Linked DNA regions of Homo sapiens: region 2 is linked to region 1. The links come from fine-mapping of genetic effects on gene expression. A gene starts in region 1. The other region holds a variant in brackets. All regions are shown on one strand. Distances are from middle to middle.

What was found.
Region 2: its variant is fine-mapped to the expression of DYNLRB1 in whole blood (TOPMed, PIP 0.96).

What each region holds. Positions count from the first base shown.
Region 1 is chr20:34,511,453-34,522,814 of GRCh38, forward strand. DYNLRB1 (dynein light chain roadblock-type 1) reads left to right here and starts at 4,970. Exons shown (of 4, transcript NM_014183.4): 1 at 4,970-5,009. The coding sequence starts at 5,007. It overlaps ITCH (itchy E3 ubiquitin protein ligase), which reads left to right. Exons shown (of 25, transcript NM_031483.7): 25 at 1-321. RefSeq lists silencers at 1,232-1,526, 4,862-4,971 and enhancers at 3,992-4,051, 4,162-4,401, 4,790-5,655, 5,322-5,501.
Region 2 is chr20:34,309,396-34,320,757 of GRCh38, forward strand. It overlaps a transcript of AHCY not described here. Among named protein-coding and RNA genes, the nearest start is that of AHCY, 12 kb to the left of the region's middle. RefSeq lists an enhancer at 2,203-2,801. The variant A/G (reference allele first, on the strand shown) is at 4,946.

The sequences.
Region 1 (11,362 bases):
CCACCTTCTGAGACTTATATGTGACCAGGTCACATAGATTTCTGCCTCTCTGCTTTTTTAAGTGGCAAGTTACAGCCCATCTGGATTGTGGTATTGTTCCCAGACCAAATCAAGGGTTGGACTGCTTATTCTCGCAGCCCAATAATGAGGTGCAGATGAACTGAGAAAGGAGGGAGTTTATTTCTGTAACCAGGTATGGGGAGAAAGCCTGGAAATGATCCCAAGACCAACTCAAAACTACAAAGTTTTCCAGAGCTTATTTACATTATAAGCTATATGTCTACATGTGAGTGTACATTCATCTAAAGACATAAGTGATTCACTTTTTTAAATCTATAAATAAGATCTGAGCCCTGAAGACCTTCCTCTGGAGCCTCAGTAAATTTACTTAATCTAAATGGGTCCAGGTGCTGGGGTGATTACCCTTATCTTGTTTCCTGCTAAATCATGGAGGTTTGGGGACTTCCTTCAGACCCCCAGTAAACTTGTTTGTGGAGGCCTTCAGACCCCCTCAATAAGTTCCTTCAGACCCCCAATAAAACTTGTTTAATCCTAAATGGGTTCCTTTGTTATCTTGTCATGCTTCAAGGCCCAGAAAAGGCCTGGGCAAAACCCTTGGTGGCCTTTTGTTACATTCTAGCCTTTGCATAAGGGCCCTCACTCTTTCAGCTTTTAATATTTAACTTAACCACTCAGTGCTGAAACAGTTGTTATGGAGGCCTGCGTTATTGAGATCTGGCCTGCCACGGTACGGGTAGAAAAAAACTAGAAAGAGCTGTTGCAGATGAGACTGGATTTGGTGCCCATGTTGAAGATGAAGATATCTGCAGGGGCCATCAACCAACATAAAGGCCTCCATATGAATTGCTTTTCTGAGACAACTAAAAGACCGGGACCACAGGCATGAGTGCTGAGTAGAGAACCACCAACTAGCTAGCTGTCAAGACTGTTACCAAGACTGTTCTCAACAAGCTGACCTGGTTACCAGCGTCAGTAGAACTTTGTCTTATTAGGAAGCTCAGGTGATTATGCTCTCATTTAAAACAGAACCAGTGGAGAGAGACTAAGGGAAGAGGAATTTTTTAATACGGCTGATCTAACATGGACTAGAGGACAAAAACTGCAGGCCCCTCCCAGGTCCTGAGTAGTTAGTAGACCCTATCCTGTTTATTCTGTCCAATGGAAGCTGCTAGAATGCTCTAGTTTCATTGTGGCTTAGAATAAGGGGAAAAATATGCCCCGCTAAGTGAGGGTCAATGGTCAGTAAGTAATTGTTCTTACTGGCCATTGGCTCTCATCCCAAACCCTACAAATCATCAAACTGGGACTCAGCTGTGACTGACTGGCTGTTCTCTGGACTTTTTAAGTGTCTGTCTCACATTATGTAACTCCAGTACAGGAGCTGCTCTCTCTCCCAGCCCATTTCAGTTGTCAATTCTTCCATGTTCATAGGACTCCTTTGTGATCAGGATATCTGGAGTGAGGAGCCAGGGGAATATTCCTGGTTGGCAAGGAAAAGAGGGCCTTAAACATAAATCCCAGAAGGACACTGTTGATCACTTATGCACAGGGGTCTGTTAATAAGCAAAGAGTGGCTATGGACAAGAGGATTTCCTCAAAGCACCCCACAGGGAAGGACCTTGACAATTTGTAGTCATACTTGAAAGATCACTAAAAACAGCCCTCCTGTTATTTTTCTTCTAATTCAGACCTGTTGTTCTATTTGTCTTCCATATCATAGCAACCAGTACCACACCCATATTCATTTAATACCAAAACAACTGTCAACATTTATCACTATGTGCAGGACACTGGTAGATATGCTATGTGCAGTGTCACTTAGTCTTCCTGTTATTGGTAATGATTATCTCTGTTTTACAAGAAAATAGAGGCTCAAAATGATTGAATCATGTCCACAACTATTAAGTAGAAAGAATACAGGCTGGAATCCAGGATGGTTTGACTCTAAAGCATGCATACTTTACCATTTTTGTTGTACTGCTACTTACCACAACACTGGGAGTCGAATGTGACCAATTTTGCCATTCCATTTAATTAGTCTCCAAATCCTATCTATCCCCAAAACTTTTTTTTTTTGAGATGGAGTCACGCTCTGTCGCCCAGGCTGGAGTGCAGTGGCGCAATCTCGGCTCGCTGCAACCTCCACCTCCCGGGTTCAAGTAATTCTGCCTCAGCCTCCCTAGTAGCTGGGATTACAGGTGCCCATCACCAATGCACGGCTAATTTTTGTATTTTTAGTAGAGACGGGGTTTCCCCACGTTGGCCAGGCTGGTCTCGAACTCCTGACCTCAGGTGATCCGCCCGCCTTGGCCTCCCAAGTGTTTGGATTACAGGCATGAGCCACCGCGCCTGGCCCCAAAACTTTTAAAAATCCGTTCTCTCAGAGCTGACAACATTGCCACAGCCCACGTGCTTCCTCCCTAATCTGGCTGACCATAACAGCATCCTGTCTTCATTTTTCCATCCTCCTCGCTCCAGTATATCTTCTGTACTACCTCAGGATTATCTGTGGAAGACCTGTCTCATGCCTCCTCTACCTAAAATTTTACAGTGGTTTCTCCATTACCGCAGAATAAAACTTTTTTTTCTTTTTTTTGAGACGGAGTCTTGTTCTGTCGCCCAGGCTGGAGTGCAGTGGGGCGATCTTGGCTCACTGCAACCGCCGCCTCCTGGGTTCACGCGATTCTCCTGCCTCAGCCTCCCGAATAGCTGGGGTTACAGGCGCACACCACCACCCCCGGCTAATTTTTTGTGTATTTTTAGTAGAGGGGCTTTCACTATGTTGGCCAGACTGGTCTCGAACTCCTGACCTCGTGATCCGCCCACCTTGGCCTCCCAAAGTGCTGAGATTACAGGTGTGAGCCACTGCGCCGGGCCAAAACTCTAAGCCTGCCACTCCGGGACATTCTTGGTCCTATTCCAGCTCCTCCTTCATTCTCATTTTGGCTCCTGTCACATGAACTATTGGCCATTCTCTTTTTTGCTTCTGGGATTGTAATCTGTTAAAATCCTTTCACTCCTCTCAGTCTGGTTCTCCATGGGCAAGACAGTGGTGATTCTTCCAGTGCTTATCTTCCAGGATGTTTTAGGGTCCAGTCTCTGCAGCACTTCTTCCCCTTGCTAAATGCTTTCCTAATGTTTCCAGCATTCAATAGAAATTCCTTTGGATCCAGTCCTTTTAAAAATTTATTTTGAAATAATTTTACATTTACAGAGCTGTTGCAAAAATGGTTAAGAGTTCCTGCACAGTCTTCACCCAGCTTTCTCCAATGTTATGATCCCATATAACCATGCTAGAATTACCAAAACTAATAAATTAACACTGGTAAAAATAACACTAAACTACAGCCCTTACTCAGATTTCACCAATTTTCCCACCCATGTTATTTTTCTTTCTCCTTACTCCTCTAATCTGTGACAGTTCCGCATTCATTCCTTGCTTTCATGACTTTGAGATTTTGGGGGGCGGGGGCGGGGTACAGGTATCTTGTAGAACATCCCTCACACTGGATTTAGTGAAATTTTCTCATGGTTTAAGGCTGGGAGTTTTTGTGGAAAATGACTCGGAGGTGATGTGCCCTTAACGCATTTTTATCGGGGCACACGGCATCAATATCTCCCCTTGCCAGTAATACTAACTTTGATCTGGTTACGGTGGTGTCTGCTAGGTTTCTTCGCAGTAAAGTCAATCCTCTTAACATGCAGACACTCCTGGAAGGAGAACCAAATCCTTCCTCACTGAAGAGCAGCTACTGTGGAATGAAACTTTGGAGTTAGATCATCGTTGAATCCAGCAAGCTACAGTGCCTGGGAGAAACAGCATTTATAAAGTATCGAGGTTACCGATACTTCCCTGAAGCTACCGGAGATAACGTTATGTGCGTGTTCAGCACAGTAATGTGGCACAGGGTTCACTAAACGGCAGCATGTTTTAACAGAAGTTATTTACTCCTAGAGGACCCAGAAACGTTTGCGGCCTGCCGGAACAGGACAACATAGGGCTCTGGGAAGAGTCCCCCTTTCAGAGGTGAGAACAAGACAGAACACACAGATGTGAAGTGCCTTCTGCTAGGTAACGCGAGGCGGGGCTGAGCTCGGATTCTAAAGACTCCCAGGCCAGCCCTAACCAATTCATCTCCGAGCTTGCACGGCATCTTACCCGGAGACTCGAGGTACCTGACTCCAGCCCCACCCCAGGCCTGCCCGATCCCGAAGCGCATTTTGGCCCTGGGCCTCTCTCTGGCTCAGTCTGGGCGCAAAGCGGGTCTCAGCAACCGTCCCACTTGCCTTCATACCCTCCCACCACGCTCCACTCAGGGACTCCAGAACCAGCTTAGACCTCCATTGAGAGCTGAAAGCCTCTTCCGATACCGAGAACCAGCACTGAAAGCCTCTTCCGATACCGAGAACCAGCATGGTTTTTGTTTTGTTTTGTTTTAGTCAGGGTCTCTTGCTCTGTCGCCCAGGCTGGGGTGCAGTGGCGCAATCTCGGCTCACTGCAGCCTCGAACTCCTGGTCAGGCGATCCTCCTACCTCAGCCTCTGGAGTAACTGGAACTACACGAGCGCGCCACCACGCCCGGCTAATTTTGTTTATTTTTTAGTAGAGAAGGGGTCTCTCCATGTTGCCCAGGCTGGTCTCGAACTCTTGGGCTCAAGCAATCCTTCCGACTCGGCCTCCCAAAGTGCTGGAATTACAGGCGTAAGCCACCGCGTCCAGCCAGAACCAGCATCTTTTCTGCACGGCTGGAGTTGGGAATTTTCCACAGCTTAGCGCACTGCTCCTTAGCTTTTCGCTTTGCCACAGTGGAAAGCAGATTTTCCAAGAATCCTGGCGGAGCCAAGATCGGCTCGCCCGCCCCCGCCTCACGCTGGCTCCTGATAGGCAGCTAGAGCTGTCCGTTTTGACAGAAACCTTTGCGCAGGCGCAGAAAGGCACAGGACTCGCTAAGTGTTCGCTACGCGGGGCTACCGGATCGGTCGGAAATGGTGAGCGTGCGCCGGGGTCTTGTGGCTGGCGGCCGCCCACCACCCCACGCCAGGCCTTCAGTCTTCCGAGGATGAGGGGATCTCAGAGCTCCGGACAGGGAATCGGTGGTGGCTGGGCGTGGCCGGGCCCGGGCCCCAGCCGACTTGAGGGTGGAACCCGGCGGCGGAGGCCTCTAAAGCCTGACCGAGGCGGGGCCGCCGGATCCCGCTGCCCCTTGACCGGAAGCGGGAGCCCAGCCTCGGCCAGGAAGAGATGATGGGCGAGGGGTGGGCGGCGGCCCTGCAGCCTAGAGTTTTGGGGCCTTGGTGCGCGATGGCAACCCTGGCAACGTTTCCCGGGAGCTCAGTTTGTGGCAGGCTCTGCCAAGCACTTTATGTATCTTGTATTTCCTCCGCCTCCTCCCAGCTCTGTGAGGTAGATACAATCTTTAGTCCCATTTTGTTATACATATCTGTTATTCAGCGCCCCGAGAAGCCAAGTGCTTTGCCCCAGGAAATAGTGGAGATGGATTTGAACCCTAGAAGCTTGACGGCCGCCACTCTGTCGGCGTGGTTCTTTCTAGCCGCTGGGACTGGGTGCCAGAGTCAGGAACGGGCGGGGTCTGCTCTTGGGGATCCCAAAGCTTGCTTTCTACCTTGCTTGCTGCAGCTGTGGGTTCTCAACGCCGTTACAGGTTTTGTGTTTGTAATCCTCACAGCTTGGGCAAAATTTGAAAAAGTTTCAAATTTTAAGCCATGTGAATATATTACTTTTTCAAAAATCTTATTTAGAAATCTAGAGCTTGTAATAAAAAAATTGAAAAAAGAAACCGTGTCATCACCTAGAGGCAACCACTTACAGTAGTCATATGACTTCTAGTCTTTTTTGCTTGTTTTTGGTTTATACAGTTTAGCCCCTATTGAATGTGCAATTGTGGGTTCTGTGTTTTTCATTATTACACCACAATATCTCCACATCATTACAAACATGTAATAATGCTTCAAATATGTATAACTTCATTTTTCACATCACTTCTTAAGCTGTAAAAAAAATTGATATATAATAGTTGTACACATTTATGTTGTAGATATACATGTAATATTTTGATACATGCATATGATGTGTAATGATCAAATCAGGCTATATTTATTATAGAATATCCATCACCTTAAACATTCATTATTTCTTTTTTTTTTTTTTTTTTTGAGATGGAGTGTGTCTCTGTCGCTCAGGCTGGAGTGCAGTGGCACCATCTTAGTTCACTGCCACCTCCGCCTCCCAGGTTCAAGTGATTCTCCCGCCTCAGCCTCCCGAGTAGCTGGGACTACAGGCGCCCACCACCACGCCCAGCTAATTTTTTGTATTTTTAGTAGAGACGGGGTTTCACCGTGTTAGTCCGCCTCAACACGGTGGTCTCGATCTCCTGACCTCGTGATCTGCTCGCCTCAGCCTCCCAAAGTGCTGGGATTACAGGCGTGAGCCACCACGCCTGGCCCACATTTTCTTTATCCATTTACCTATTGATGGACGCTAATTCCATAATTTAGCTATTATGAATAGTGCTGCAATATGAACATGAGGATGTAGGGATGCCTTTGATGTACTAATTTCCGTTCCTTTGAATAAATACCCAGTAGTGGTATTGCTGATTTATGGTAGGTTTTTTTTTTCGTTTTTGTTGTTGTTTTTGTTTTGTTTTGTTTTTTCGATGCCTTTGTCGAAAATCAGTTGGCCGTAAATAAGTGGATTTATTTCTGGGTCCTCTATTCTATTCCATTGGTCTGTGTTTTATACCAATACCATGCTCTTTTGGTTACTATACCTTTCTGGTATATTTTGAAATCAGGTAGTGTGATACCTCAAGCTTTGTTCTTTTCGTCCAGGCTTCTTTTGGCTTTTCTGAGTCTTTTGTGGTTCCATACGAATTTTAGGATTGTTTACAGGTAATACTTGCACACAGTAAAAAAATAAATGATGTAAAAGGATCTAAGTGAAAAATAAAATTCCCACTCTCCTAACCCCCAGTCTCAGTCTCTCCTCCTTTAGAAACAACCATTGTTAGTTTCTTTTTTTTTTTTTCTTGCAAACTTGACCCTCCTGGGCTCAAGTGATCCTCCTGCCTTAATTCCCCAAGTATCTGGGACTACTGGTGCACGCCACCACACCCTGCTAATTTTTTTGTATTTTTTTTTTGTAGAGTTGGGGTTTTGCCATGTTGCCCAGGCTGGTCTTGAACTCCTGGGCTCAAGTGATTCACCCACGTTGGCCTCCCAAAGTGTTAGGATTACAGGCGTGAGCCACCACACCCAGCTGTTAGTTTCTTATGCATCTATACAAGCACTTATATGGCCCCCCTTTTTCTTACTTAAACTGTAGCTTTCTAGAACCTGTATTATGCTACTCCGTGGTTATACTCATAAAAGCAATGCAAATTTAGATGCCTAGTTTAACTTTTTTTTTTTTTCTTTTGAAACAGAGTCTTGCCCTTTCGCCCAGGCTGGAGTGCAGTGGTGTGATCTGAGCTCACTGCAACCTCTGCCTCCCGGGTTCGAGTGATTCTCCTGCCTCAGCCTCCGGAGTAGCTGGGACTGCAGGAGCATGCCACCATGCCTGGCTAATTTTTCTATTTTTGGTAGAGACAGGGTTTTTTTTCTATTTTTAGTAGAGACAGGGTTTCACCATGTTGACCAGGCTGGTCTCAAACTCATGACCTCAGGTGATCCGCCCACCTCCGCCTCCAAAAATGCTGGGATTATGGGCGTAAACCACCATGTATGTTAACAATTTGAAGCAGTACCAGAGGATATAATATAGAAAGTTTATGTGGTCCCCATCTTACTACCCCGTGGCAACTTCTGTTGGCAGTTGGGTGTGTTTCCTTCCAGATGTGTTTGGTGCATAAGCACATTTATGTATAAGCTGTTTATTAGATGAAACTGGAATATATATATATTTGTATATGTTAACTTTACTTTAAGGCTGAAGTGGAGAGATCGCCTGAGCCCAGGAGGTCAAGGCTACAGTGAGCCGTGACTGCACCACTGCACTCCACCCTGGGTGAGAAAAAAATAAGAGAAAACAGAAGTTGACTTTAAGATATATATGTATATATCTTATTCTGCAACTTGTTCTGTTCACTTAAAAATATCACACATTTTTCTGTGTTATTATATGCAGGTCCACTTCATTCTTTTTAAGGTCTGTATCGTATCCTAGTCCCATATGTACATTTAGGTGGTGTATAGTTTTTTTATTCCAGACACTGCTGCAGTAACTGTTCTTGTCTTTTTTGCACTCATGCTAGTGGTTATGTAGGATAGATTTCTACAAGTGGCACTTTTGGCTTGCATATTTTACATTTTAGGTGGAAACTGACCTTTAGAATAATGATATAAAAATCATCTATAATTGGCCGGACACAATGGCTGACGCATATAATCCCAGCACTTTGGGAGGCCAAGGTGGGCAGATCACTTGAGGTCAGGAGTTGGAGACCAGCCTGGGCAACATGGTGAAACTCTGTCTCTACTAAAAATACGAAAAGTAGCCGGAAGCCGTGCATCTGTAATTCCAGCTGCTCAGGAGGCTGAGGCACTAGAATCGCTTGAACCCGGGAGGCGGGGGTTGCAGTGATCCGAGACCAGGCCAGTGCACTCCAGCCTGGGCAACAGAGCAAGACTCTGTCTCAAAATAAATAAATAAAATTAAAAAATAATCACATATAATTCTCCTCGTCCAGTTTCACTGTGCCACATAACTATTTTCATCTTTGTATGTTCTCCTTCCTCTTTTGTTCACATATGCATATTTTCCAAGATAATGCATGCTGAGTTTTGGGGGGATTTTTTTCTTTTTTTGTTGTTTTAATATCCAAAAACATTTAACCTTGTTGTCATATCATCTTTGTGATTAACTACTTAGTGACTACATAATACTCGGTGAAATAGTTGTACCATAATTGGCCAAATATCTTACCTGTGTACATTTGGGTTGCTCCCATTTCTTTTTGGTTTGTTTGTTTTAGAGATGGAGTCTCACTCTGTTGCCCAGACTGGAGTTCAGTGGCTCAATCTCAGCTCACTGCAACCTCTGCCTCCCAGGTTCAAGTGATTTTCCTGCCTCAGCCTCCTGAGTAGCTGGGATTAACAGGTGTGCATCATGACGCCCAGCTAATTTTTGTATTTTTTAGTAGAAACAGGGTTTCGCCATGTTGGCCAGGCTGGTCTCAAACTCCTGACCTCAGGTGATCCGCCTGCCTCAGCCTCCCAAAGTGCCAGGATTACAGGCATGAGCCACCATACCTGGCTGCTTCCATTTCTTAATTAGTAGAAATAGTGCTGTGATGATGCTTCTGTGAATATCTTGTTTTGTTTCATTTTAACTTACTTATTAGATTATTTCCTCAGGATAAAATTCTTAGGAAAATAATTTCTGAGGTGGAAGGACCAGTGCTTTTATGGTTCTTGCAATATATTGTCCTGTAGCTTTGTCAAGATTGTATTGCCCTTGCACCTGCCAGTTTTGTAATAACAATGCCAGCATTTAAAAATAAACCTCAGCATTGCTATAATTTTTCATTTCTGTCTTTTTTTTTTGAAATGGAATCTCACTCTGTTGCCCAGGCTGGAGGGCACGATCTCAGCTCACTACAAACTCTGCCTCCCAGGTTCAAGCAATTTTCCTGCCTCAGCCTCCTGAGTAGCTGGGATTACAGGCCCATGCCACCATGACGGCTAATTTTTGTATTTTTAGTAGAGACAGGGTTTCCCCATGTTGGCCAGGCTGGTCTCAAACTCCTGACCTCAAGTGATTCACCCACCTCAGTTTCCCAAAGTGCTGAGATTACAGGTGTGAGCACCACGCCCAGCTGAATTTTTCATTTGTTTGTGAGGGATGATGACCATGGTTTGATGTGATTGTAATTTCTCGTAGGCATATTTTCTACTAGTATTCTTTTGTGCACTACCTACTAGAGACTTGCTATTGTTCTTAGTCATTTTGTGTTTTTTTTTTATTTATTTTGTCTGTTATATTTGATGCAAATACTTTTCTATCCTGTTAGATTAGTTATTCTTATACAGAAGTTTTATGTTTAGTGGTCAAATTGGTCATAGTTCTTTGTCAGTCATTTGCTTCCAGTGGTCATCCCTCCTATGCTGAGCCAATGGATCCTCCTGGATCTTTATTGCTGCTTGTTTTTCCATGTGTCAGGAATGTGCATCTGGGAACTAGAGAATTGGGGAACCTTGTCTCCATCATCCCATTGCCCAGAGTGCATTTCTTTCTCATCATTTGATTCTTGGCTTAAAGATGACATACTTATGGCCGAGAATGGTGGCTCACGCCTGTAGTCCCAACAGTTTGGGAGGCCAAGGCAGTAGATCACTTGAGCCCAGGAGTTCAAGACCAGCCTGGGCAACATGTCGAAACCCCATCTCTACAAAAAATTAGCTGGGTTTGGCAGTACACATCAGTAGTCCCACGTGTTCGGGAGGCTGAAGTGGGAGGATCACTTGAGCCTGGGAGGTCAAGGCTGCAGTGAGCCATGATCGAACCATGGCACGCCTGGGTGACAGAGTGAGACCCTATCTCAAAAAAAAAAAAGATTACATCTCCTCAGGTGTTCCTGACCACATTAGCCAGAGTAGCATCCCTTGCCCCACAGCCTAGTCCCTGTATCCTGCAAGAATCTTGCTCACTTGTTTAAGTCTCTTTCACCAGAATGTGAGCTCCCTGAGGGCAGGGACCTCCTCAGTTGTGGTCACCAGTATATTCAGCTCTTCTGTTGACCTGCAGTGTGTTCTTGGGCAAAACCCTTCTCCTTTCCAAACCTGTTTCCCCATCACTAACATGGAGATCATACTAACCCATGAATGGGAGTTTCAGAAGAGAGCATGTGTCTGAAAGCAATATATGACCCATAGTAGGCGCTGAGTAGGGAAATTATACCTATGTGTCCTCCCATTCCTGATAGATGTGTGAGATGTGTGTTTACTTTTCTTTTTTCTTTCTTTCTTTTTTCTTTTTCTTTTTTTTTTTTTTTTTTTTTTGATGAGTCTTACACTCTGTTTTCCAGGCTGGAGTGCAATGGCGCGATCATGGCTCACTGCAGCCTCGGCCTCCTGGGCTCAGGCAATCCTTTCACCTCAGCCTCCCAACTAGCTGGGACTGCAGGCACACGACACCACGCATGGTTAATTTTTTTTATCTTTTGTAGAGACGAAGCTTCACCATGTTGCCCAGGCTGGTCTCAAACTCCTGGGCTCAAGCAGTCTACCTGCTTTGGTCCCCCAAAGTGCTGGGATTACAGGCATGAGCCACTGTGCCCAGCCCATGTTTACTTTTAAACAGCCAGATCTTAGTATCTGGTTCT
Region 2 (11,362 bases), 200 kb before region 1:
TTTTGGTGCGCCCTGTAACTTCAGCTACTTGTGAGTTGGAAGGATCGCTGGAGCCCAGGAATTCAAGGCCAGCCCGAGCAATATATTAACAGCAAGACCTCCTCTCTTAAAATAAAAAATTAGGCCAGGCACAGTGGCTCATGCCTGTGATCCCAGCACTTTGGGAAGCCGAGGCTGGCAGATCACAAGGTCAGGATTTCAAGAGGAAACCCCTGTCTCCACTAAAAATACAAAAATTAGCCGGGCGTGGTGGCAGGCACTTGTAATCCCAGCTACTTGGGAGGCTGAGGCAGGAGAATCGCTTGAACCCAGGAAGGGGAGGCTGCAGTGAGCCGAGATCGTGCCATTGCACTCCAGCCTGGGCTACAAGAGCAAGACTCTGTCTCAAAATAAATAAGTGAATTAATTAATTAAAGAAAGAAAAAAGAGAAAAGAAAAGAGAGAGGAGGAGCAGGACAGAAGGAAGGAGGGAGGGAGAAAAGGAGGTAGGGAGGGAAGGAGGGAGGGAGGAAGGAAGGAAAGAAGGAAGGAAGGAAGGGAAGGAGGGAGGGAAGGGAAGGAAGGAAACAATAGAAGAACCATGGAGGTGGAGGGGTGCCTTCTTAGTGCCAGGTTGGGGGTGAAAGTCCAGGCTCCCTATGTGGCTTGGGGAAATTGAATGATGAATTTTTTTTTTGAGACAGAGTCTCACACTGTTACCCGGGCTGGAATGCAGTGGCGCGATCTTGGCTCACTGCAACCTCCACCTCCCAGGTTCAAGCGATTCTCCTGCCTCAGCCTCCCAAGTAGCTGGGATTACAGGCGCCTGCCACCACGCCCAGCTAATTATTTTTATTTTTATTTTTAATAGAGATGGGGTTTCACTATGTTGGCCAGGCTGGTCTTGAACGCCTGACCTCGTGATCCACCTGCCTTGGCCTCCCAAAGTGCTGGGATTACAGACGTGAGCCACCATGCCCGGCTGATTAATTTTATTTTTAAGTTTACTATCACATGGATAAAAAGTTTACAGTTTAATAACATACTATTGGTAAGAGTGTGGGGAAACAGGCCTCCTCATACTTTGGTTTTGGGATTGTACATTGGCACAACCTTAATGAACAACACTCTGGTAATAACTAACAAGATTACAAACCCGCATGCCCTTTGACCAAGCAGTTCCACTTCTAGGAATTTATTCCAAAGATGTTTGTACACATGAGCAAAATGACGTTAAGAACAAAAGACTGTCCTTCCATGGAAGACTTGTTAAATAAATATTGGTACAGTCCACATGATGGAATATGCAGATAGCCATTTTTTTGTTTAAATGAGCTGTTTATCTAACAATATAGAATGATCTTCAAGATATGGTGGCCCAGTGCGATGGCCCAAGCCTGAGGCCTAAGCGCCACTGCACTCTGCCTGGGCAACAAAGCGAGACCCTGTCCGTATTTTAAAAAAACGACAGTCGGGCGTGGTGGCTCATGTCTGTAATCCCAGCACTTTGGAAGGCTGATTCGGGCGGGTCACCTGAGGTCAGGAGTTCGAGATCGGCCTGGCCAACATGGCGAAATCCCATCTCTACTAAAAATACAAAAATTAGGCGGGCGTGGTGGCACACACCTGTAATCCCAGCTACTCAGTAGGCTGAGGCAGGAGAATCGCTTGAGCCCGGTAGGTTGCAGTGAGCCGAGATTGTGCCACTGCACTCTAGCCTGGGCAACAGAGTGAGACTCTGTCTAAAAAACAAACAAAACAACAACAACAACAAAACCAACAACAAAACATATAATGAAGGACAAAAAGCAAAGTGCAGAACGGTGCGCCTAGTATGCGATTATTTATGTAAAAGAAAGAAAAGAACACACAAACAGGTATTTGCCTATACATGCAGAAAATATACCAGGCTGGATGTACAAGAAACTGCTAACAGTGCTTCCCTGGGGATCCCCGCCCACGCCGCTGAAAGCTGCCCTGGACGTTAACTGTTGATGTCCCTTCTCCAGGTCCAGGCCCCAGTGGAGCTTCTGGCGGGAAGGTCGAAACCCCAGGCAGAAGCAGGTCCCGGTCCCTCCTCCCGACCTTTGTACCTGCCTTTTCCGTGTTTGCTTTTGCAAACAATTAGGTCCTGGGCGCGGAGGGGCGGAGAGGGGGCGGAGAGGGGGCGGAGGGCGCACAAGCCTGCCCTTTGGCCGCGGGGCTTTAGCCTGCCCTAGCTTCAGCATCCCCGCTCGCCTCCCGGCGGTCCTGCGTCTCACTCTGGATTAACTGGAGGCTTCGAGATGGGATAGAGAGGGGTGCAGGCGCTGAGAAAGCCCGCTGATGGGGATGGAGCCGGATTAAGCAGTTCTGTGGAGTTCCTCCCTTCTTGTCCACCCCGCTAGGGGTCTCTCCTTTCCCGCTGTATCCACGCCCCTCCCTCCAGGCCCCCTGGGCCCACCTCGAAGTCACCGCTGGGCTGGGGAGTACAGAGGTGGGGGACTTCTTAGAGACCCTGGGACAGGGCCCCCCTCTCTCCCTCAATCCTTCTCATCCCACGCGGCTCCGCTGTGAGTCGGGCGTCCCAGGAGCTGCCGGCCCACCCATCCGCGGGTTTCTTCCGTTGGGGGAGCCCTCCAGACTCGTAGAATATAAGAGAGCGCCCCTCCCTAGCCGCGGGCCATCTCTAAGCGACAGGCTTTAAGAGGCACCCCGAAAGGGGGATGTGAGGTGGTGTGGTTCTATATCATTATATCGAAATCATCTGATTATGTGCCTGTCCCATTACTTCCAGGAGGGACAGAAACCTGTATGGCTTTGCCAGCTGCTGTGTCCCCAGGGTCCAGCTCAGTGCCTGGCACACAGACTGCACACAATATTTGGGAATGAATTAATGTTCCCAGATGTCTGCCCCGGAACCCACGCTGTGGTGCCCCTTGGCTTCAGCCCACAGTCCTGGCTCTCCTCAGGGTGGAGCCAGGGAGTCCCCTAATCCAGGTCTCTGACGTCCCCCGCTGAGGCTGGATCGTTCCCCAGTGGGGCTGGATGGCCTCTGGGTTCACTTCCCAGCCTTGTCTGAGCTTCCACGCCCCTTTTATCCTAATATTTGCTAAGAGCCTCGTCCAGGGACCTTAGGAGTCACACAGCCAGGGGTTCTGCCCCTGCCCTTCATTTCTCAGATGATAGAAAAGCAAAAGGAACACTCTGAGAACTTGTAATGGGGAGGAGTGGGGGGTTGGTCCAGTCTGACGGGGCGGGGGCAGGGTGGGAGACGTCCTTGGAGCGAGATCTGAGGCAGAGGAGCTCAGTCCACAGAAAGGGAGCACGGGCTCCACGCTGCAAGAGTAGGGAGCTGTAAGGTGCCCTCCCCAGACGGCTCCATTTTGCCCACCTTCCTTTGCGGATAGCACCCCTGGACCTCCGAGGTCAGCCTGTGCCCTGCAGCTGGAGTCGCCCTTGACTCCACTGTGCCAGGAGAGGGCACCCTGCTCCCAGCTTTGGCTTCAGACTGCTGCAGTGCAAACTCTTCCCTCCAGGGGCAGGATTTGGAGCGCTGTGATGATAACCTCCCAGCTGCCCTGGGAGAAAGCAAAGTACAGCTTATCGCTCCCTCCCATAGGAAGAAACTGAGGTTCAGAGAAGAGCAATGAATGTTGCTAGTAAGTGGTCTTTGGACTTGTTTTGAAGGGGCTTTAGCCCTTGGAAGCATTTGTCGGGATGTTTTTGTTCTGTTCTGTTTTGTTGAGCCAGGGTGTCACTCTTGTTCAGGCCGGAATGCTATGGCACCATCAGAGATCACTGTAGCCTCAAACTCCTGAGCTCAAGCAATCCTCCTGCTTCAGCCTCCCCAGTAGCTGGGACTACAAGCATGCATCACCACATCCAGCTTTTTTTTTTTTTTTTTTTTTTTTTTTTTGAGACAAAGTCTCACTATGTTGCTCAGGCTGGTCTCAAACTCCTGGGGTCAAGCAATCCTTCCACCTCGGCCTCCCAAGTGCTGGGACTACAGGCATAAGCCACATTGTTGGGACTGCTGGGTGTTGACAGTGACACCCAGGATAATGATACTAGTCCAAATTTATTATATCCAATGCTCCACACACAATTCTAAGCTCTTTGAACTTCCCTGTAAGGTAGATGTTGCCCTACTTTATAGATGCTACCCTATAAGGTAGGTACCCATTTAACACATGGAAAAACTGAGGCTCCTAGTGGTTGATTTGCCCACAGTTAGGAAGCACCAATGCTGTCTGACTCCAGAGTCGCTGCTGGTAACCACTGGGCTACCCTTCCTGCAATCATGCTCCCTGCTGCAACCCCCATGCCAGACATGTTCATTTGAGTGTGCTAGAGGCAAGGACAAAAAAACAGGACAAGACAAAGTCCCTGCTCCCATGGAGTTCCATTCAGTGAACATGTTTACACCTACAGATACATCCATACAAACCTTCAAACACATACTCATTCACACATCCCACCATCACACACGAATACTCATGCTCATGCACCTATGTACATACATACTACAGAAATAAGGCCAGGTGCGGTGGCTCATGCCTGTAATCCCAGCACTTTGGGAGGCCAAGGCAGGTGGATCACTGAAGGTCAGGAGTTCGAGACCAGCCTGGCCAACATGGTGAAACCCGTCTCTACTAAAAATACAAAAATTAGCGGGGCATGCTGGTACACACCTGTAGACCCAGCTACTTACTTAGAAGGCTGAGGCAGGAGAATAGCTTGAACCCAGCGGAAGAGGTCGCCGTGAGCCAAGATCGCACCACTGCACTCCAGCCTGGGCGACACAGCGAGACTCCGTCTCAAACACACACACATGTATATCCACACTCATACACTTCATACATACATTCACACATTCTCAAGTACTCACACATATTCAGACCCTCACCTTTGCACACACTCTGTTAGGTTAGACAAAAATCAGCTCTTTTTATTTTTTAAAAAATTTTTGTAGAGTAAGGGTCTC[A/G]CTATGTTGCCAATACTGATCTCAAACTCCTGGGCTTAAGCGATCCTCCCACCTTGGCCTCCCAAAGTGCTGGGGTTACAGGCGTGAGCCACCACATCCGGCTAAGATCATCCCTATAACATTGACCTGTGCTTTAACTGCCAGATACCTGGAGCCCAAGATTCAGCTAGTAATCTGAGAGCTGTTTGTGACACCACTCCCTTCCTCTTCCCTTCCATTGATCCCACAAACATTGTTAACTGCCCACTCAGGGCAGGCAACACAGATGACTCAGACCTGGGCCCTGCTCTCAAGGAATTTCCTAGCCAGTGGGGAAAAAAGACTCACCAATGTTCACGACACAGATCATGGATGCCAGGGCAGGTCAGAGCAGAGAGTCCAAGGTGGAGGGAGAGGGTGACTCACTAGGCCTAGGGGCTGTGGAAACCTCTCAGAGGAAGAGGCGTCCACCAAAGTCTTCAAAATGAGTCAGGTAGAGAGAGAACTGTGCAGGTGTGGGAATCACATTTGCAAAGTCATGGCAGAGTAAGAAAGTGGGGACAAAATAGCTGGGCACAGAGGCTCACGCCTGTAATCCCAGCGCTTTGGGAGGCCGAGGCAGGAGGATCACCTGAGGTCAGGAGTTCAAGACCAGCCTGGCCAACATGGCGAAACCCTATCTCTACTAAAAATATGAAAATTAGCCAGGCATGGTGGCGGGCGCCTGTAATCCCAGCTACTTGGGAGGCTGAGGCAGGAGAATCACTTGTATCTGGGAGGTGGAGTTTTTAGTGAGCAGAGATCATGCTACTACACTCCAGCCTGGGCGACAGAGCGAGACTCTGTCTCAAATAAATAAATAAATATAAAAACTGGGGGAGTTTGCATGGAGCCCCATATTTCCAGCTTCTCTTGAGAAAATTATCTAGCAACTAGACTTATGTTGTCATAGCAATGGGTGGGTGAGCTAAATGTTAGCTGCCTTCTTTGAATGATGCATAAGTTCTCGAGGCCAACATATGTCCCCATCCCTGGCCCATATCGGTTGTTGATCCCTGACTTGAAGTTTTCTCAGTGGACCAGGATCATCCCAATGAGCATTGGTTGTCATTAAATAACCTTGGTTCTCATTTGCATAGCACCAACTGAGTCATTTTCCTCTACATTCAATGTCCTCACGTTGCAGGATTCTTGTGTTGCTTATGATTTACCTATCTCCTCCTTTTGTCTTCTTCCTATTGCTGATGTCAGTGAGGCCACCTCACATACCCTGCTCTCTTCCTAATGGAGTTGAACCCATCCAGCCAAAAACAGGAGTAGGATCCACAGGAAGGGGCTACTCCAGGAACCACTAACACTGTCAATTGCCAATTTCCAGGAACTAGGAGGGTTTTCTACCTTATTCCAGAAATACGGGGAAAAGAGGTGTTCTGAGTTAAATGATGGCCCTCCTCCCAAAGGATATGTTCACCTAGAATCTGCAAATGTGACCTTATTTGGAAGAAAAGTCTTTGTGGATGTAATTAAGTTAAGGATTTTGAGTTGAGACAATTCTGGATTAAGGTGTCCCCTAAATCCAGCATCAAGTGTCCTTACAACACAAGGAAAGGGAAGAAGACAGACACAGAGAAGACCACACGGTGAAGACAGAAGCAGATTGAGTGATGCATCTACAAGCCAAGGAAACCTGGGATTGCCAGCAGTCACCAGAAACCAGGATAGAAGCAGGGAACAGACTCTCCTCAGAGCCTCCAGAAGGAACCCACCCTGCCAATGCCTTGATTTTGGACTTCTGGCTTCCAGAACTGTGAGAGAATAAATTTCTGTTGTTGTAAGCCACCAAATGCGTGGTACTTCATAATGGCAGCTCTGGGAGTCTAATACAGATGGAAAGGGGAAGAGAAGATGGGGGAGATAGGTGGGGCGGAAGCCTGATCTTGTGACTCTGGTGACTCAGTTTCCCTTGTCCTGCCTTGGAGGTGGAGAATATGGAGAAGGCTGAAGTGCTAAGGGCAACAGCAAGAGTGGCTCAGGCGGTCATCCCAACCAGCACCCCAGGGCTCCAATGCCTCCCAGGAAATGAGTCATCTTGGAGAGCCATGGGTTTCTTCTCAAATGCCTTTTATTGTAAGCACATGGAGGAAGTGTTCTAAGGCAACAGCTCTTGAGAGGATGGTGGAGTGAGCCTTTAGGGAGGCAAATCAGCCAGGGCTGGCATCCCAAGTTCAGGAGTTCACACCAGGTGCCCATTCCAGGCCTGGGCAGAGGGGCAACCCAAAAGGGGAAGGGGCGATGGGCAGGGAACCGTAGGAGCAGAGAGAAGGAGGAGGGCAGTAGTGAGGCTTCTCAAGAAATAAGAGTTGGATCCTTCGGCCAGTGCTGCCTGTTTCTCCCTTCTCGCACCTCCTCATATTCATAAGCATTTATTCAGTGCCAGGACTGTGTTCACAATTAATATTTCAGTTTCCCCTTCTATAATATATAGAATGCTGAATATGATAGTCCTGAAATGTCTTTTTAGGACATTGTGTGGTTCTAGTTGCCAACCTGGATCTTAAAATGCAAACATTGACAATAACCCCTTAAACTTCAGCTTCAAGGATGGCTCCTCATAGCCTCTGTGTGAGTGGGCAGGGCTGGGATCATCAGACAGTGCATTTTACAGAAGAGAAAACTGAGGGATGAGCACCTGCCTAAAGTACCACAGAGTCAACTGTGGATGAGAGCCTGGGGCCTGGAGAGCTCATGCCCATATAGGGAGATTGCTGTGCCGGTGTTCACTTGCTATGAAGGAGCCCATCATGGGGAGTTGTGGTCTGAGATCCTGGACCTTGGGGGTAAAAGCAGAGGGTCCAGAAAGGGACAAAGATTGGCATCACCTCCCCATCATGGTCTGAGGCTGATTGTGGGTAATTCTCTGCCCTGGCCTCAGTGATTCTTTGCTGCATAACAAACCACCCATATTTATTGGCATAAAACAATTATTTATTTATTTATTTATTTATTTATTATTTTCTGAGACGGAGTCTCGCTCTGTCACCCAAGCTAGAGTGCAGTGGCGCAATGTCAGGTCACTGCAACCTCCGCCTCCCGGGTTTAAGTGATTCTCTGCCTCAGCCTCCCAAGTAGCTGAGATTACTGGTGCCTGGTTCATTTTTGTATTTTTAGTAGGGATGGGGTTTCACCATCTTGGCCAGGCTGGTCTTGAACTCCTGACCTCACGATCCACCTGCCTTGGCCTCCCGAAGTGTTGGGATTACAGGCATGAGCCACCAGGCCTGGCCACAACAATCATTTATTATTCATTTCTTTTGTTTCTTGGGGAGGGAGCATTGATTGGACTCAGCTAGGCCATTCTTGCTCAAGGTCTCTCATATGGCTGCAGTCTGGTGGTGGCTGGGCTGGAGTCAGCTTGAAGATCTCCTGATAGCCAGTTGATGCTGGCTACCTGGGACCTCAGATGGGGCTTCCAGCAAGGATATGATATGTGGATTCTCCATGTGGCCTGGGCTTCCACACAGCATGGTAGCTGGGTTCCAAGGGTTCCAAGGATAAGCATCCTAAGAGAGAGAGCCAGGCATAAGTTGTATCACCATTTATGACCTAGACTTTGAAGTCATGTGGCATCACTTCCATCATATTTAGTTGAGGTAGTCACAAAGCCCCACCCAAGTTCAAGAGAAGGGGCCATACACTATTGTCTTAGTTCATTTATGTTGCTATAAAGGAATACCTGAGGCTTGGTAACTTATCAAGAAAAGTGGTTTTGAAGCAGCCTTGTTGTCTGGGGGGTGATACCTGAGGTTTGTTGTCTCACAGCTGAGGAAATAAAGGACACGGACACACAAAGAGTGAGGTTAAGAGCAGAAGTTTAATAGGCGGAAGAAAGGGAATAGCTTTCTGCTGGAGAGAGGGGTCCCAGAGAAATGGGTTGCCAGATCCATGGTGAAATGCAAGGGAGTTTATAGATGCCTGGTGAGGAGACAGTGTCTGATTTACATAGGGTGTGAAAGATTGGTTGGACCAGGTATGCCATTTGCATAGGGCACAAATTTCTGGTAGCCCCCACCCTTATCTTTTACTATGCAGGTAGGTTCTTTGCCTGGCCTGTTACCCATGTTGCCCATTCCTTTACTGTACACGTGATAACAAAGGAAAGATGGAGCCTCCCTGTTGGATATCCCTGGTGCCTAGGTAGCCCAATTTTATTGGCACAGCTGCCAGCATTTCCCCATGCAAGCTTCCAGCTTGCTTATCTATGTTTGCAGCTCAATTTTTCAGGCTTCTCTTTGTTAGAAAAAAATAATTTCTTGAGCTGCTTTTTGTTAAAAGGGATGCTCTGTAGAGGACTGTTTTGCCCTCACTATCTGCCTAAATAATTCCTTTCTACCTGCTGTATCAGTTTATTGGCTCATGATTCTGCAGACTGTACAAGAAGCATGGTGCCCACATCTGCTTCTGGTGATTGGTGAGGGCTTCAGGCTGCTCCACTCATAGCAGAAGGTAAAAGGGAGCCATCCTGTGCAGACATCACACGGTGAGAGAATGGATGGAGGAGAGAGGGGGAAGGTGCCAGGTTCTTTTAACAATCAGCTCTTGTGGAAATTAATAGAGCGAGAACTTCCTCATTAACATGAGAATGGCAACATGCCATTCATGAGGGATCCACCCCCATGACCCAAATACCTCCCATTAGGCCCCACCTCTAACATTGGAGATCAACTTTCAACATAAAGTTTGAGAAGACAAACATCCAAAGTGCAGCAACTAGCTGTTGATGGGGGAGTGACAAGGTTCTAGAAGATGTAAATCAATAAATGGTTGGGAGCAGTGGCTCACACCTGTAATCCCAACACTTTAGGAGGTCAAGTCTGGCAGATTGCTTGAGCCCGGGAGTTTAAGACCAGCCTGGGAAACATGGCAAAACTTGTCTTTGCAAAAATTATCTAAGCATGGTGGCACCTACCTGTAAAGATAATCTTTACCTAATGTAAAGATAATTGAAGTAGGAGGATCACCTGAGCCCGGGAGGTCAAGGCTACTGTGAGCTGTGATCATGCCACTGAACTCCAGCTTGAGAGACAGAATAAGACCCTATCTCAAAAAAAAAAAAAAAAGGTTCAGTGGCTCATGCCTGTAATCCCAACACTTTGGGAGGTCGAAGTGGGTGGATCACTTAAGGTTGAGAGTTTGAGACCAGCCTGGCCAACATGGTGAAACCCCGTCTTTACTAAAAATACAAAAATTAGTTGGGTGTGGCCGGGCGTGGTGGCTCAAGCCTGTAATCCCAGCACTTCGGGAGGCTGAGGCGGGTGGATCACGAGGTCAGGAGATCGAGACCATCATGGCTAACACAGTGAAACCCCGTCTCTACTAAAAATACAAAAATTTAGCTGGGCATAGTGGCAGGCGCCTGTAGTCCCAGTTACTTGGGAGGCTGAGGCAGGAGAATGGTGTGAACCCAGGAGGTGGAGCTTGCAGTGAGCCGAGATCATGCCACTGCACTCCAGCCTGGGCGACAGGGCCAGACTCCGTCTCACAAAAAAAAAAAAAATTAGTTGGGTGTGGTGGTGAGTGACTGTAATCCCAGCTACTCGGGAGGCTGAGGCAGGAGAATCGCTTGAACTCGGGAGGCAGAGGTTGCAGTCAGCTGAGACTGTGTCACTGCACTCCAGCCTGGGTGACACAGCAAGACTCCGTCTCAAAAAAAAAAAAAGATGTAAGTCAATGAAAATGACCAAGCCAAGTCTCAATCATTTTAGGAGGTTTCTTTGCCAAAGTTAAGGATGTGTACCAAGGAGGCAGGTTTATGCCTTTCTCGAAAGGTGATTTTGAGGACTTCAGTATTTACAGGGGAAGGGGTGGATATTGGGGGAGAGGAAGAAATTTTTTAAAGATGTGGCTAGATAAGAGACAAATGATTACATCCTTTTGAATCTTTGATCAGCCTTTCACTGAATACACAATTTATATGTGAGGTGGGGTAGAGAAATAGTAACTTATGCCTCTGTCTGGCTCAGTGGATCTGCATTTTTATATAAGATAATGTAAACAATAGGGCAGAGGAAGCAATCAGATATGCGTTTGTCTCAGGTGAGCACAGGGCTGCCTTTGAGTTCTATCTGTCCTTTGTCAAAAGCCTGTGAATATAATGATCAATTTACATTGCCACAGTGAAATTCAACAGAACTGTTTTAGGGTAAAGATGGGCAAATTGTGAGAGAGGTATGTAGCTTTTGTCTTTGTAGCTTTCTGATTTAGGAACCAAATGGGAGATGGGAGATGGGTTTGCGTGACCCAGTTCTCAGCTTGACTTTTCCCTTTGGCTTAGTGAGTTTGGGGTCCCAAGATTTTGCTTTTTCACAAAGAGCATGAGGGATGGGAGATGTTGTGACCATTTCTGAAAAATATACTTTGTCGCACCAGATAAGGGGGTGA